Regions from separate parts of the Homo sapiens genome. Here region 1 is linked to region 2. The links come from fine-mapping of genetic effects on gene expression. A gene starts in region 2. The other region holds a variant in brackets. All regions are shown on one strand. Distances are between the middles of the regions. Region 1 overlaps WDR88 (WD repeat domain 88). Region 2 holds the start of WDR88 (WD repeat domain 88).

Region 1 (8,700 bases), 21 kb before region 2:
AGGTGTGCACCACCACACCCAGCTAATTTTTTAATTTTTTTGTAGAGACAGGGTCTTGCTGTGTTGCCCAGGCTGGTCTTGAACTCCTGGCTTCAAGCAGTCCTCCCACCTTGGCCTCCCAAAGCATTGGGATTACAGGCATAAGGCACCTCATCCGGCCATCTTTGCCTCCTTGGGGGTAAAGGCTGATACAGAGGGAAGCTAGGTTGAAAGACAGAGTGGAAGGGTTGGGTTCCCAACAGCATTGACTCTCTTGTCCCATCCATGCCTGAAGTCAGACGTGCTCTTGGACTTTTCCATTACAGGATTAATCAATTTCTTTGGTTGCATACGCCACATTGAGCTGAGTTTCTACCACTGTAAACTGGTACCTGTGGTCTTCCCTCTTGGGTTTTTTGTTCTCGTGGGGAAGAATCCGCCCTCCCTGTCAGCATCATTGGAAATTGCCTCTCTGTCCATTTGAACGGAACATGGAGAACTCTGCCCAGCACTCCCACAGGAATGGAGGCCTTCTGCATGTTAATTACTCACTGTCTCTGGCAAAGTGACAGGAACTGACAGAACCTTCATGGCCCTGCATCAGAGTCACACAGGCTCCACAGTTTCGAAACTCCCCTGTGTGGACGTTCCATATTTTTAAGTTTTTATCCCAGGAGCTTGTACACAGGAAATGGCCACTGAAGGTAAAACAGCAGTTTGAGATTGCATTGGAATGTGCCCTGAAACACAGATGGTGGGGTGCACACATTAGCGCTTTGCTCCTGGAGGACCTGAAGACATACCTAAAGCCGGGGGTATTTTCTCCTGTGAGCTCATGGTCGGGCTGCACATGCTAGCACTTCGCCCCAAGAGGACCTGAAGACATACCTAAGTGGGGGTCAGCATCTCCTGTGAGCTCATGTTCATCATGCCTTTGATCACTGCCTACCATGGTCCAGATGTGAATTGCTCAGACTGTCACGCTGTTCCAGCATTTCTCGACTGCACCAATTTTTAGAAAAATAATAATAGAGACAGTGTTTCGCTATGTTACCCAGGCTGCTCTCAAACTCCTAGGCTCTAGTGGTCCACCTGCCTTGGCCTCCCAAAGTAGTGCTGGGATTACAGGCGTGAGCCACGGCACTGGGCCAACCACACCAAGGTGGACATTTTGAGCTGGGTCACTCAGAGTTGTGGGGGCCGTCCTGTGTTCTGTAGGAGGTGGAGCAGCATCCCTGGCCTCTCCTGGCTAGATGCCAGGAACCCCCACACCCAGTTGTGACAACAAAACATGAGTCCAGACATTGTCAAATGTCCACTGGGGCACAAATTGCCCTCATTTGGGAAGATTCTGCAGTATTCCCTTGGCGCTGGAGGGAAAAGCAGCTGGTGTCAGGAGTGATTGATTGACAGACAGCCTTTGGGGCTTGGTGCTGGGTGGCGCTTACACAGAGGCTCTCTCCTGCTCCCCATCTTTCCCCCAACAATGTCAGGCGTGGTCTCCCCCTGTTCCACCCCTCTCTTACTTACTCCTCTGCTTCTCCACCCCAACTATTCACTCTCCCTTTTTCTCACTCCTATCCTCATTTGTCTTCAGTGCTATTCAAGTATATTTCAGTGTTGTATATTTAATTAATAAAATTGTGGGTTATTTGGCTGGGTGCAGTGGCTCATGCCTATAATCCCAGCACTTTGGGAGGCCTAGGTGGAAGGATTGCTTGAGCCCAGGATTTTGACACCAGCCTGGGCAACATAGCAAGACCCCATCTCTACAAAAAATATAAAAATTAGCTGGGCATGGTGGCACATGCCTGTAGTCCCAGCTACTCTGGAGGCTGAGGCAGGAGAATCACTTGAACCCAGGAGGTGGAGGTTGCAGTGAGCCAAGATTGTGCCATTGCACTCCAGCCTGGGCAACAGTGCAAGACTCTATCTCAGAAAAAAAATGAAGTTATTCATTCCAATTTTTAAGCATCTTCTTTTTCAGAAAAATAATAATAATAAAAAGCCTGTCTGTATTTTGCCACTTTTTGTTTGTAACCCTCAATGTCTTTCTCCTGTGATTCTCACCTCCTCTTGTAAGCAGAGTTTTCTCTGAGTAGCCTGGATCATAAAATCAATCATTTGACCTGAAGAAAAGGTTGAGCAAAACAATTTTCTAGAGCTCAGATCAGAGTTTTGGAACCCATTTTGGTTCTTTGAAAGGCACAAACTGAGCAACGCCAAAGGAGAAGAAATGTCAACTTCGCAGGGCCATCCGGGATAAACCTCACCAATTCCCAGTGCCTGGTGAGCTAAGAACCATGCTGGCATATCATGGAGGTTTGACTGCAAGCTCTCCCAGCAGCCAGACACTGTCATTGAGGTTTAAACCAGAGGTATACCCAGAGGATTATAAATCATTCTTCTATAAATACACATGCACACGTATGTTTATTGCAGCATTATTCACAATAGCAAAGACTTCGTGTCAACCCAAATGCCCATCAATGATAGACCGGATAAAGAAAATGTGGTACATATACACCATGGAATACTATGCAGCCATGAGAAAGAATGAGATCATGTCCTTTGCAGGGACATCATCCTCAGCAAACTAACACAGGAACAGAAGACCAAACACCACACGTTCTCATTCATAAGTGGGAGTTGAACAGTGAGAACACATAGACACAGGGAGGGGAACATCACACACTGAGGCCTGTCAGGGGGTGGGAGGCAAGTGGAGGGAGAGCATTAGGGCAAATACCTAACACATGCGGGGCTTAAAACCTAGATGACGTGTTGATAGATGCAGCAAACCACCGTGGCACATGTGTACCTATGTAACAAACCTGCACATTCTGCACATGTGTCCTGGAACTTAAAGTAAAAAAAAAGACATAGCAATTTCTAAATAAATAAATACATAAATAAATAAATAAATAAACCAGAGGTATCTCTATGGACTCTCATTTCACATAAATCCCACTTCTCGTAGAAGGCCATTTCACCTGTACAGAAGTTTGGGGAAAATGGCTATGCTGCACGTACAGTTCTGGACAAGATGGAGTCAACTTTAAAAGTAATTTTTTTAAATGGCTGAAATTTTACCAAATTTGGCAAAATATATAAACCTACAGATTCAAGAATCTGAGTAAAACCCAACAGGATAAATCCAAAGAAATCTACACCCAGACACATAATTACACTTCAGAAAACTAAGGACAACAAAAATATCTTCAGAGCAGCAAGAGAGAAATGACTTTTTACCTATAGGAGAAAAACAATATGAATGACAGTGTAAATGAAAACCACAGTGTGGCCAGGCACTGTGGCTCATGCCTGTAATCCCAGCACTTTGGGAGGCCGAGGTGGGTGGATCACAAGGTCAGGAGTTTGAGACCAGCCTGGCCAATGTGGTGAAACCCTGTCTCTACTAAAAATACAAAAATTAGTTGGGCATGGTGGCGGGCGCCTGTAGTCCCACCTACTCGGGAGGCTGAGGCAGGAGAATTGCTTGAACCCGGGAGGCGGAGGTTGCAGCGAGCCGAGATTGCACCCTGCAAATGATATAGCTGATCTTGCTAGAGGATTTAAAAAATTCATAATGTCGGTCGGGCTATATCATTTTCAGTTCTCAGTGCAAAATTAATAAGCAAGATCCCCACTCCTGAAAAAGCTAAGCACAGTATTACCATATGATCCAACAATTCCACTCCTGGGTATACAGAGTAAAGAATTAAAAACAGGCCAGGTGCAGTGGCTCACACCTGTCATCCCAGAACTTTGGGAGGCCAAAGTGAGAGGATCACTTGAGCTCAGAAGTTCAGGACTAGCTTGGGAGACATAATGAGACCCCGTTTCTGCAAAAAAAAAAAAAAAACAAACTTAAAAATTAGCCAGGCATGGTGGTGTGCACCTGTAGTCTCAGCTACTCAGGAAGTTGAGGCAAGAGGATCACTTGAGCCTAGGAATCCGAGGCTCCAGTGAGCTATGATCACGTCACTGCACTCCAGCCTGGGCAACAGAGCAAGACTCTGTCTCGAAATCAAATAAAATAAAAAGAATTGAAAGCAGGAACTCAAAGTTACATGTACATGTGTTCATAGCAGCATTATTCCCAATAACTAAAAGGTAGAAACAGCCTAAGAGGTCATCAACAGATGAACAGATAAACAAAATGTGGTATGTACACCTATAATGCAGTACTATTCAGTCATCAAAAGGAATGAAGTTCTTAATCCCAGCACTGTGGGAGGCCGAGGTGGGTGGATGACAAGGTCAGGAGTTTGAGACCAGCCTGGCCAACATGATGAAACCCCGTCTCTACTAATAATACAGAAATTAGCCAGGTGTGGTGGTGGGCGCCTGTAATCCCAGCTACTCAGGAGGCTGAAGCAGGAGAATCACTTGAACCCAGGAGGCAGAGGTTGCAGTGAGCCAAGATGGCACCACTGCACTCCAGCCTGGGGGACATAGCGAGACTAAGTCTCAAAGGAAAAAAAAGGAATGAAGTTCTGATGTTCTGATGCAGGCTACAACACAGATGAACCTTGAGGACATTATTTTAAGTGAAATAACCTAATCACAAGAGGACAAATAATGTATGACTCTACTTATATGAAATATCTAGAATAGGCAGATTCATAGAGACAGAAAGTAGAATAAACATTACCCAGGGCTGGGGGCATGGGGAATGGGGAGTTATTGCTTAACGGGTAAGAGCTTCTGTCTGAGATGATGAAATCATTTTGGAAATAAATAGTGGTGATGGT[T/C]GCACAACACTGTGAATGTAATGAATGGCAGAGAATTGCACACTTAAAAATGGTTAAAATATCATGTTTTATGTTGTGTGCGTGTATATATATATATATATATTTTGAGACAGAGTCTCACTCTGTCACCTAGGCTGGAGTGCAGTGGCACAATCTTGGCTCACTGCAACCTCCACCTCCCGGATTCAAGCTATTCTCCTTCCTCAGCCTCCTGAATAGCTGGGATTACAGGTGCCCGCCACCACGCCCAGCTAAGTTTTGTATTTTTACTAGAGGTGGGGTTTCACTATGTTGACCAGGCTGGTCTCGAACTCCTGACCTCAGGTGATCCGCCCCACTCGGCCTCCCAAAGTGCTGGGATTACAGGCATGAGCCACCGAGCCCAGCCCCAAAATTTTTTTAAATGATAATGTAATATCTCCAAAACGACTGAATTCACTTTATTTATTTATTTTTTTTAGACAGGGTCTTACTTCATTGTCCAGGCTGGGGTGCAGTGGTGCAATCATAGCTCACAGCAGCCTCAAACTCCTAGGCTCAAGCAATCCTCCAGCCTCAGCCTCCTGAGTAGCTGGGACTACAGGTGTGTGACACCACACCCAGCTAATTTTTAAATTTTTTGTAGAGATGGGGTCTTGTGACATTGCCCAGGCTGGTGTTGAACTCCTGGCCTGAAGTGATCCTCCCACTTTGGCCTCCCAAAGCTCTGGGATTATAGCCATGAGCCACACGCCCAGCCAGACCTTCCCATTTTACAGGAGATGCTGGAACTTCACCTTTTGTGGACTTCTCTGCACAATGATTTCCACTAGTGGCTCACATTGAAACAAATGCATCTGAGGCCCAGCCCAGCCCACAGGCCACAGCTGATGGCTCCCTCCTGCCTGCCTGTCCCCAGCCTCCTCAGAGCACCTATGACCAAGCTACAGACGTGTCCACATGGATGCTGGCTTATGTGGAATTCAGGAAGTCATGAATGGGGACGCCCCACCCAAACTCCCTTCTGGCCTCCTGGGGTCCAACTCACTTAGTGATGGTGAGCAGCGTGGCCTGGGATGTAACATCCCAGATCTTGATGCACCTGTCCAATGAGACAGAAGCCACCCTCTGGCTGTCGGGGTCAAAGCAGCATGACGTGATGGACCTTGTGTGATGATCTGCAGAACACGGAGGAAAGGGACTTGAGACCACGCCTTCCACCTGCTGGGCTGGAGGACTCCCACGACTTCCCCAGCCAGTGACGATTACAAAACACAATTCCAGTTTTCATCAGGAGCTACACACCTGCACAAACATTCCTGAGTGACTACTATGTCCCAGGCTTTGAACCGGGAGCACAGCAGGTTCCCTGCCCCCGCAGAGCTGCCAGTCTGATGGAGGAGACACCCCGGACCAGGCAACGACCTGCCACATGCCACAGATCATGAGATGAGTGCACGGGCCACCAAGGCCCAGACAACATAAGCCTGGCCACCCTGAGGGGTCCAGGAAGGGCCCGAAAAGCCAGCAAGGGAAGCAGAAATGGAAGAGCACTCCAGGAAGAAGGAACAGTGCTTGCAAAGGCCTGGGCCGGATCATGGAGCAGTGTGGGGCAAAGCTGGAGTCTGAAGCATGGTGGGGTCAGAGTGTCAAGTGGGCTCTTAGGGGCTATTAGGGAAGCTGTGGGGCAGTGCACATGGCATAGTGCCACATCGATAAAAAGAAACACAAAGCACATATGAGAAGCAGTGTTGTGTGTGCAAACACTTGTACGCACAGGCATACACACAGGGTTCAGGAAGACTGCCCAGCAATGTATGGTTCATAACAGGTGCCTCTGGGGAGGAGACAGGACAGACACAGCAGCCTTTTGCTTTTTTATTTACATAATGAATGATTTTTTTATTTTTGAGACAGGGCCTCATTCTGTCACCTGGGCTGGAGCGCAGAGGCGCGATTTCGGCTCACTGCAACCTCCACCTCCTGGGTTCCAGCAATTCTGCCTCAGCCTCCCGAGTAGCTGGGATTACAGGTGCCCGCCACCACGCCCGGCTAATTTTTGTATTTTTAGTAGAGACAGGGTTTCACCATGTTGGCCAGGCTGGTCTTGAACTTTTGAGCTCAGGTGATCCACCAGCCTCGGCCTCCCAAAGTGCTGGGATTACAGGCATGAGCCACCACGCCCAGCCCATAATGAATGTCTTTACAATGATTACACATTTTTTTAACTTTAATTTTAAGATAATTGTAAACTCCCATGGAGGTGTAAGGAATAACAGAGAAATCACCCATGTCCTTCACCCAGCAGCCCCCATGGGAACATGTGGTATCATCATCACACAGTGTCCCAACCAGGAAACTGTCATACAACAATTACTAAGTCCTATATTTTAAAAATAGGCTGGGCACAGTGGCTCATGCCCGTAATCCCAGCACTTTGGGAGACCAAGGCGGGCAGATCACCTGAGGTCAGGAGCTCGAGACCAGCCTGCCCAACATGGTGAAACCCCATCTCTACTAAAAATACAAAAATTAGCTGGGCGTGGTGGTGGGTGCCTGTAATCCCAGCTACTCAGAAGGCTGAGGCAAGGAGAATTGCTTGAACCCAGGAAGTGGAGGTTGAGGTGACCCGAGATCGCACCACTACACTCCAGCCTAGGAGACAGAGCAAGACTCCATCTCAAAAAAGAAAAAAAAAAAAGATACAGGTAGGCCGGGTGAGGGGGCTTCTCCTATAATCCCTCACTTTGGGAGGCTGAGGCAGGAGGATCCCTCGAGGCCAGGAGTTTGACATCAGCCTGGGCAACATAGCAAGACTCTGTTAATGTTAACTCTGTTAATGTTAATGTTAAGAAGCCTGAGCCTCCCCTCAATAAAAGATTAGGCTGTCAATGACCACATGAGGTTGGAGCCGAACATTGTGTCCTTTGTTAAAAGCACAAGACTGAATGAATGGAAAAGCATTAACTGAAGAGGATCAGTTTTGGTGTGTTTTTTTGTTTGTTTGTTTGTTTTTTGTTTGTTTGTTTGTTTTTTTGAGATGGAGTCTCACTCTGTCTGCCAGGCTGGAGTCCAGTGGCTCAATCTCAGCTCAATACAATCTCCACCTCCGGGTTCAAGTGATTCTCCCGTTTCAGCCTCTCAAGCAGCTGGGACTACAGGTGCATGCCATCACACCTGGCTAATTTTTGTATTGTTTTTGGTAGTGACAGGGTTTCACCCTGTTGCCCAGGCTGGTCTCAAACTCCTGGGCTCAAGCAACCTCCCAAAGTGCTGGGATTACAGATGCAATCCCAGCCACCGCACCTAGCCTAGTGTCCCAGCTTTAATGACGTGCTTCATACCATTACAGTTTCACCAAATAAAGCAATGGAAGGTCACCGTCAGTCAGTGACAAGTGGCTATTCCTATGGCAGACTGAAGATACAGGGAGCCCGCACACCCTCACCTTTGATGACGGAAACGGTGGTGATGTTCTCGGCGTCCATTATGCAGATTCCATGATCCACGTCGAAGCCTGAGACCACGTATTTACCATCAGGAGAAAACTTACAGGAGACGATGAAGGTATCATACCTGACCTTCCACTGAAATGAGCCAGCAATCAAAAGGTTGTTTTAAGCCAGGTGTGGTGTGTTACACCTGTAAACCCAGTGCTTTGGGAGGCCAAGGCTGGAGGATCGCTTGAGACCAGGAGCCTGAGACTAGCCTGGGAAACATGCAAGATCTCCATCTCTACAAAAGTAAAACATGAGCCAGGTGTGGCGGTGCTCGCCTGTAGTCCCAGCTACTTATGAGGCTGTGGCGGGAGGATCATCTGAGCCCAGGAGTTTGAGGCTGCAGTGAGCTACGATGGCGCCACTGTGTTCCAGCCTGGGTGACAGAGCTTGCAAGACCCTGTCTCTAAAAATCATCATCATCGTCATCATAAAATAAAAACTTGGCTTATCTTGTCTTTCTAAAAATGTTTACAATGAATACAAAC
Region 2 (8,700 bases):
TGAAACCCCGTCTCTACTAAAAGTACAAAAATTAGCCGGGCATGGTGGCACATGCCTGTAAGCCCAGCTACTGGGAGACTGAGACTGGAGAATCGCTTGAACCTGGGAGGCAGAGGCTGCAGTGAGCCAAGATCACGCCACTGCACTCCAGCCTGGGCAACAGAGCGAGACTCCATCTCAAAGAAAGAGAAAATGTGTCATGGCCATGCAACAGAATATTACTTGGTAATGAAAAGGGAAGGGAGCACTGCTACAGGCTACAACATGGATGAACCTTGAGGACGTTAGCTAAGGAAATGAAGCCAGTCACAAGAGACCACGTATGGCTTGATTCTATCGCTATAAAAGGTCTAGAATAGACAAATCTATGGACAGAAAGCAGAATTGCCTGGTGTCGGCAGGATGGGTATTGGGGAACTGGGGAGTACAGTACTCTGAATACCCTAGAAACCACTACAGCTTCTATGGTTAAATTATATGGTACGTGAATTATATCTCAGTAAAACTGGGGGGAAAAAAAGAGGACAGAGCAGGGAAGCCTGAAGATGTCACCCCCCCCACCCACCCACCCCAGCTCGCGCATGGCGACACGTCCCAGGTTGAGCTGCGGAAGTGTGGGGGTGGGGGAAATGTTGGAGGCAAGACCAGGGGTGTGGCCTGGAAGGCAGTGTCAGGGTGCTGGGCTGAGTTGGCAGGAGGACAGGGGTGAGGGGATGCGACGGTTCAGGGCGGCGGTGGCCTTCCGGTTGCAGGTGATGCGGGGCGGGGGGGGGGGTGTCGGGGACGTGCAGGTGGAGATGCAGGGGATGAGATGATACCCCGCCTCTAGGGGGCTCGGGGACACGAGGACACTGGAACGCGGGCTCCGTTGCCAGGGAGCGTGGAGAGCTGGGACCGGGCTTTTCTCCGGGGGAGTTCGCTAACCCCGTCGGGCCAGGCCGGGGCCGCGCGTGCAGGGTTGGCTCCCTACCCCAGGAGCGGCCCCAGTCCCCGGGACATGACCTGCGCGGCCCTCCCGCACCGCCCCCGCCTCTGGCGACCCCAGCCCCTGCCGCCCCTGCAGGGTTTGGGTTATCTCTCTCATTAGGAAAACCCAACTATCATTAAAAATTGAAATTAAATTGGCTGGGTGCAGTGGCTCACGCATGCAATTCCAGTGCTTTGGGAGGCCCAGGAGTGAGGATTGCTTGAGGCCAGGAGTTTAAGACCAGCCTGGGCAACATGGCGAGACTCCCCCTCTCTACAAAAAAAATCAAAATTAAAATTAATAATTTAAAAAATATATAATTTAATTTAAAAAATAGGAAAACAAAAAACCTAGAACTCCATCATGGAAAAACATTAGCAAGAGGGGGGAACCATTCCGCTACCCCCACCACAGGCTTTTCTGGGGCTCTCGTTTCAGGTTTTTTTCTGCACACAGTCCCTTGGGATCCACTAGGTAAAGGGGTCCCAGGGGCTGCAGAGAGAAGTCCCCAACACATGAGTACATTTCAGAGGTGCTGACAAAGCTCATGCAGAGGACAGAGCAAAAACAAAACGGTTCTTCTATGCGTAGCGTTCATTCACATATTCCACAAATAAACCTCAAGAGCCTCCTCCCCCATGGGGCCTGGACCTGATGCTGCAGCTCAGCAGCCACCTAGGAGCAAAGTCCCTAACCTCGAGGGGCCAGTTGCTGGCAGCCAGAGGACACCTTGAGGACGGAACGGGGATGTCAGACCATGGCATGAGGCACGGAGGAGACAGTGGCCCTGGCTACTTTAGACGGGCGGTCAGGGAGGGCCTCCCCAAGAGCGCAATACCGTGGGGGCAGGGAACCGCCAAGATCCCTGAGGCCAGACCTGCTTGTAGGTCAGCAAGACAGGGGGATGGGGGAGGAGAACATGGAGAGGTGCCAGATTTGAAATGGCCTGGAAGGCCACAGGCAGATCGCCAGACTTCATCTTAAACATGCTGGGAAGCCAGGCAGAGGTTTCGAGGAAATTATTAAAAACACACTCTGACATCTGCATGTGAGTGCAATAAATCAAGGCCAAGCATGAAACGCTACTTATTGAGAATGTTCTTTATTGGGTTTTTGTTTTGTTTTGTTTTTGAGATGGAGTGAGATGATCTCAGCTCACTGCAACCTCTGCCTCCCGGGTTCAAATGATCTTGCTGCCTCAGCCTCCTGAGTAGCTGGGATTACAGGCACGCACCACCATGCCTGGCTAATTTTTGCATTTTTAGTAGAGAAAGGGTTTCACCATGTTAGCCAGGCTGGTCTCGAACCCTTGACCTCAAGTGATCTGCTCATCTCGGCTTCCCAAAGTGCTGGGATTACAGACATGAGCCACTGCACCCAGCCAGTTTTTCTTTCTTTCTCCTTCTTTCTTTCTTTTTCTTTTTCTTTCTTTCTTTCTCTCTCTCTCTCTATATTTATTTATTTATTTATTTATTTATTTATTTATTTATTCTGGAGACAGTCTCGCTCTGTTGCCCAGGCTGGAGTGCAGTGGCACAATCATAGCTCACTGCAGCCTTAAACTCCTGGGTTCAAGGGATCCTCTTGCCTCAGCCTTTCAAGTGGCTGGGACCACAGGTGCGCCCCATCACACTGGGCTAAGTTTATTTCTTGTAGAGACGACCTCTCACTATGTTGCCCAGGCTGGTCTCAAACTCCTGGGCTCAAGTGATCCTCCCACCTGGGCCTCCCAAAGGGCTGGGATTACAGGTGTGAGCCACCTTGCCTGGCCCAATTCATTGTTGTTATTATTATTCTGAGTTTCCCGTTTCTTCTGACGCTAACTGTATCTCCTGGACGGGGAGAGCTGAGCCACCGACCCTTGGGCTGCAATTAGGAGCATCACTGTGGGTGGGCCTACCTACGGAGACTCCAAGGTCTAGATGGGGTCACATGGTGGGGCAGAGCCTCCTCCCAGCGAAGAGTCCTGGTTCCCCAGCAGGTGGCAGTGCGGGGAGCCCCCGCCGGCATCCCCAGCACGCCCTGCTCAGGTGGGTCTGACCTTTGCCCACAGATGTACCACAGATGGGGAAATGGGCCTAGGGCCTCGCTGGGGGTCCTGGTGAAGCCAGGTGGGTTTTCCATGGGTCCCCCGACAGCTCGAGCGCCTTCCTCCCGTGTGGGGAACAGGCCAGTGCCCCCTCACCCCAGCGGCGGTTCTGACCTTGGAGAGAGGGTCCTGGTCGCCCCAGATCAATTTCTCCGGCACCTGGTGCTTCTCAGGCAACAGATGCGGTGGTGGTTCCCTGTCCAAGGCCAGGGGGTCGAGGGTGGCCAGCAGGTGCGTGTGCGGGATCGACAGCTTGAAGCGGCCTAAGGCCCTCGCCATGGTCCCCCAGGACAGCTTGCCGGGACAATACTCGCTGGCGGGGGCGGAGGGTGGCGGCAACTTGCATTCCCTGTCATGGGCTGTCGGGGAGCACCGCGGCGGGGAGGCCATCTCGAAGCCCGGTCCGCCGGTGGCCGCCGACAAGCCTGGATGGGAACGGTGGCGCCGCGCGCCCGCGCCCGCGCCCGCACCAAGCCCTTCGGAGGCGCGCGCTACGCTGGGCCCGCGACTTCGCTGCCTCCTCGCCCGCTGGGTGAAAACTAGTGCCACCCCGCGCAGCACAGGTTACCTATAGAAAAATGGGCTTTGCAGCCGGGCGCGGTGGCTCACGCCTGTAATCCCGGCACTTTGGGAGGCCGAGGCGGGCGGATTACCTGAGGTCAGGAGTTGGAGACCAGCCTGGCCAACAGGTTTAGTGAAACCCCATCTTTACTTAAAAAAAATAATAACAAAAATTAGCCAGGCATGGGGGCGTGCGCCTGTAGTTCCAGCTACATGGGAGGCTGAGGCAGGGGAATGGCTTGAACCCAGGAGGTGGAGGTTGCAAAAAAAAGAAAAATGGGCTTTGCATTCTGGGAACCAGGCCGAGCCAGCAAAACCAGCACCCCAGCCTCCAGCCCTCCGCTGTGGTTTCCCTGGCTCCTGTCACAGGGCAATTTCTTCATGTCCTCTGCCTGGGTACAGCTCCTGGCCAACCCACTTCATGACAAAACAGAAAAGGTCAGTAAGTTATGGGGTAGCCCCTGCATGAAATAAGATGCAGTTATTAGGGGTGGGTTTACAACATTTATAATAGATGAGGGAAATATCTGTCACAACCCCAACAACAGTGACAGGGAATAAAATGCTACCACCAGTCAGATAACAGCCCCATAGCTAGAAAAGGACAGGGTGGAATTATTCAAAATATTGAAGAAGGGTGTCATCTTTGGATGATAAAACTAAAAGTGATTTTCTTCCTTCTTTTTTTTTTTTTTTTTTTTTGGTGGAGACAAGAGTCTGTCACCCAGGCTGGATTGCAGTAGCGCAATTTCGGCTCACTGCAACCTCCACCTCCAGGGTTCAAAGGATTCTCGTGCCTCAGCCTCCCACACAGCTGGGATTACAGGTGTATGCTCACCAGACCTGGCTAATTTTTTTGTATTTTTAGTAGAGACAAGGTTTCGCCATGTTGGCCAGGCTGTTTTTGAACTCCTGGCCTCAAGTGATCCGCTGGCCTCGGCCTCCCAAAGTGCTGGGATTACAAGCATGGGCCACCGCACCCGGCCTCTTCCTTCTTTCTGCTTTTAAAATTGTTGTGATCTATGATGCTACTTTCATAATGTAAAATACAAATGCTCAATACTTTATTTTTTGTGGAGACAGGGGTCTCTATGTGGCCCAGGCTGGTCTGGAATTCCTGGGCTCAAGCAATCCTCCCGCCTCGGCCTCCCAAAGCTCTGGGATTACAGGCATTAGCCATCACACCTGGTCTGCACTTTATTTTTCAAAAAGGTCTCCTTGGTACACATGAGGTGGCCTCAGAGCAGGGAGCTGCAGCCGTGTAACCCAGGCTGTGGGTGCACATTCTCCTGCCTGGTTTCCCTGCCTGTCTCAGACACTTTAGTGACATCTACCCTGAGAGGCTGAGGCCCCCTGCCAGGCCCTGGCTCTGCCCTCCCATGGGGCTTCCTGGGCACCAACAGTAACCCAGCCACCCAGAGAGGGAAGAGCTTCACTCCCAAAAAACGGCAGGAGGGGCCGCAACCGCCCCTTCTCACACGCTTGTCCTTCAGTGAGTCCAGGCTGTCTTCATCACAAAACCAGAGAGAAGCCTTCACTTTTAACTTCTTTTTTAACGTCCCAGGAAATTTTTTAAAAATCAAGAAGAAAATAGAAAAATTCCACTTTAATTAAACTGTTCAGTCTGGATTTTTTTCCCCCGATACTAACTGAAATTAAAAATAGAAATCAATTTCTGCGACCTTTCAAGGCAGTCTTTGAAATGTCAAGGTTTTAAAAATTATTTTACAGCAGGAATTTACATATAAATACACTCTGTACAATGCGTTAACTGAACAATCACTGGGCTTCCATCATGGAGGAGAAATGATTCTAGGACGAGCCAGGGCAGCATTCAATTACTGCCTTCTTAGTGGAAGACTTTTCAGCCTGGAAAAGAAAACAGAAAAGAGAGAAATGGAAAGTTAGCTAAAGTGAAAAACCAAACAGCTCCGTGGAGGCTGAGAATGCCAGGCCTCCCCATATCACAGCAGCATGTCTGCACCTACAAAATGCACTCACAATAACCCACAATGAAGTACTGCCTAATCTGTGCTTTTTTTTTTTTTTCCCCCGAGATGGAGTCTCACTTTTGTCGCCCAGGCTGGAGCGCAGTGGTGCGATCTCAGCTCACTGCAACCTCCGCCTCCCAGGTTTAAGCAAGTCTCCTGCCTCAGCCTCCAGAGTAGCTGGGATTACAGGCACATGCCACCATACCCAGCTAATTTTTGTATTTTTAGTACAGATGGGGTTTCACCATGTTGGCCAGGCTTGTTTCGAACTCCTGACTGTGATCTGCCCGCCTCGGCCTCCCAAAGTGCTGGGATTACAGGCATGAGCCACCGTACCCGGCCAATCTGTGTTCTTAAAATGCTTCTTCTATTACCCTGAAAACACACAGAGACTCACTCACCCACACCTCGTATTAAGACCACTTATAAAAGCAACTTTTTTCCCTAGTCTTATTTAGCCTTGAGAATACAAGCAATTTTTAATCTCAGTTTCACTCACCTACCGCATCCGTTGCATGACCCTTGGGAAGGAACTAAAATACATTCACTCCAGGGCCCAAAGCATCCAAGTTGTCTTTTTTTTTTTTTTAATTTTTTTATAGAGACAGGGTCTCCCTATATTACCCGAGCTGGTCTTGAACTCCTGGGCTCAAGCGATCCTCCCATCTTGACCTCCCAAGGTATTGGGATTACAGGCATGAGCCACCATGCCCAGCCCCCAAGTTGTCAGTCTTAAATCTGAATTTCTTTTCTTTTTTTTTTTTTGAGACAGAGTCTCTGTCACCCAGGCTGGAGTACAGTGGCGCGATCTCGGTTCACTGCAACCTCCACCTCCCAGGTTCAAGCGATTCTCCTGCCTCCACCTCCTGAGTAGCTGGGACTACAGGCACGTGCCACCACGCCTGGCTAGTTTTTTTAGTAGAGATGGGGTTTGGGGTTTCATTGTGTTAACCAGGATAGTCTCGATTTCCTGACCTCATGATCCGCCTGCCTCGGCCTCCCAGAGTGCTGGGATTACAGACGTGAGATACCGCACCTGGCCTAAATCTGAATTTCATACATATAGGAATGTTCGTGGCAGTTCTATTTGAAACAGAGCTGGGTCACACTGGCTGAAAATCCCTGCTCCACAGACTCAAAGTAAAAAACCCAGTATCCACACAACAGAAGAGATAAACATACCGTGGTGTGCTCACAAGAAGGAATCTTCCACAGCAATGACTACAAGCCCCTCACTGCTGCCTACCATCATCTGAAGGAATCTCAGAAGCCAGACACTCAAAGAATTCACACAACACCCTTCTTCCCAATAAAGATAAAACTGGCAAGAGCAGGCCTGCGCAGCGGCTCACGCCTGAGGCTGAGGCAGGAGGATCACTTGAGGCCAGGAGTTCGAGACCAGTTTGGGCAACATAGGAGATCCCATCTCTACAAAAAAGATTTTTTTAGGCCGGGTGTGGTGGCTCACGCCTGTAATCCCGGCACTTTGGGAGGCCAAGGCAGGCGGATCACCAGGTCAGGAGATTGAGACCATCCTGGCTAACACGGTGAAACCCCGTCTCTACTAAATATACAAAAAATTAGCTGGACGTGGTGGCGGGTACCTGTAGTCCCAGCTACTCAGGAGGCTGAGGCAGGAGAATGGCGTGAACCCAGGAGGTGGAGCTTGCAGTGAGCCAAGATCGCGCCACTGCACTCCAGCTTGGGTGACAGAGCAAGACTCTGTCTCAAAAAAAATGATTTTTTAAAAAAATTAGCTGGGTGTGGTGGTGCACACTTACAGTCCCAGCTACTCTGAAGGCTGAGGTGGGAGGATCCCTTGAGCCGGAGAGGCAGAGTTTACAGTGAGCTGTGATCAGGCCACTGCACTCCAGCCTGGGTCACAGAGCGAGACTCTGTCTCAAAAAATAAAATAAAATTCATACCCTATAAATATATGCTATATAAAATTATATTACTTATATTTAAAATGTGCACAAAAATCTGTATATAGGCCAGGCATGGTGGTTCACACCTGTAATCCTGGCACTCAGAGGCCAAGGTGGGTGTATCACCTGAGGTCAGGAGTTTGAGACCAGCCTGGCCAACATGACGAAACACTGTCTCTACTAAAAAAATACAAAATACAAAAATTAGCTGGGTGTGGGGGCGGGTGCCTGTAATCCCAGTTGCTTGGGAGGCTGAGGTAGGAGAACTGCTTGAACCCGGGAGGCAGAGGTTGCACTGAGCCAAGATCGCACCACTGCACTCCAGCCTGGGTGACAGAACGAGACTCGTCTAAAAAAGAAACAAACAATGTGTATGTGCATCCATGTACGTGAGTGTGTATGTGTGTGTGTGTGGTTGCACAAAAAAGGTCTTAAAGGTTACATATGAAACTGATGGCAGAAGTTACTGTGGAGAAAGTAGAGGTTTGGAGAACTAGTCAGGGCTCCTTTAAGCATTGGCTGTAAGGTCTGAATTTTCTTTTCTTTTTTTTTTTTTTTTTATTGAGACAAGAGTCTCGCTCTGTCGCCCAGGCTGGAGGGCAGTGGCACAATCTCGGCTCACTGCAAGCTCCGCCTCCCAGGTTGACGCCATTCTCCTGCCTCAGCCTCCCCAGCAGCTGGAACTACAGGCACACGCTCCACGCCCAGCTAATTTTTGTATTTTTAGTAGAGACGGGGTTTCTCTGTGTTAGCCAGGATGGTCTCGAGCTCCTGACCTTGTGATCCACCCGCCTCGGCCTCCCAAAGTGCTGGGATTACAGGCATGAGCCACCGCGCCTGGCCTGAATTTTCATAATGATAATATATTCACATATCACTTACATAATTAGATATTCAAACTTTTTAAAAAGCCTAGTTAATACACACATTTTTTTTTTTCTTTTAGGGAGAGGGTCTTGCTCTATCACCCAGGCTGGAGTGTAGTGGTACGATAGTGGCTCACTGCAACCTCCAACTCCCGGGCTCAACAGATCCTCCCACCTCAGCTTCCCAAATAGCTGGAGGCACAGGTGTGCACCACCACGCCCAGCTAATTTGTTTTTTGTTTGTTTGTTTGTTTGTTTTTGTAGAGCTGGGGTCTCACTATGTTGCCCAGGCTGGTCT

The links. PIP is the estimated chance that this variant, and not a neighbour inherited with it, causes the effect.
Region 1: its variant is fine-mapped to the expression of WDR88 in stomach (GTEx, PIP 0.95).

What each region holds. Positions count from the first base shown.
Region 1 is chr19:33,148,374-33,157,073 of GRCh38, reverse strand. WDR88 (WD repeat domain 88) reads right to left here. Exons shown (of 11, transcript NM_173479.4): 5 at 8,164-8,302; 6 at 5,764-5,893; 7 at 532-719. Among named protein-coding and RNA genes, the nearest start is that of WDR88, 21 kb to the right of the region's middle. RefSeq lists a cis regulatory region at 5,707 and an enhancer at 5,623-5,792. The variant T/C (reference allele first, on the strand shown) is at 4,737.
Region 2 is chr19:33,126,916-33,135,615 of GRCh38, reverse strand. WDR88 (WD repeat domain 88) reads right to left here and starts at 3,502. Exons shown (of 11, transcript NM_173479.4): 1 at 3,171-3,502. The coding sequence starts at 3,446. GPATCH1 (G-patch domain containing 1) reads right to left here. Exons shown (of 20, transcript NM_018025.3): 20 at 5,074-5,486. The coding sequence ends at 5,456. RefSeq lists enhancers at 609-658, 3,496-3,665, 8,134-8,303 and silencers at 739-858, 6,423-6,567.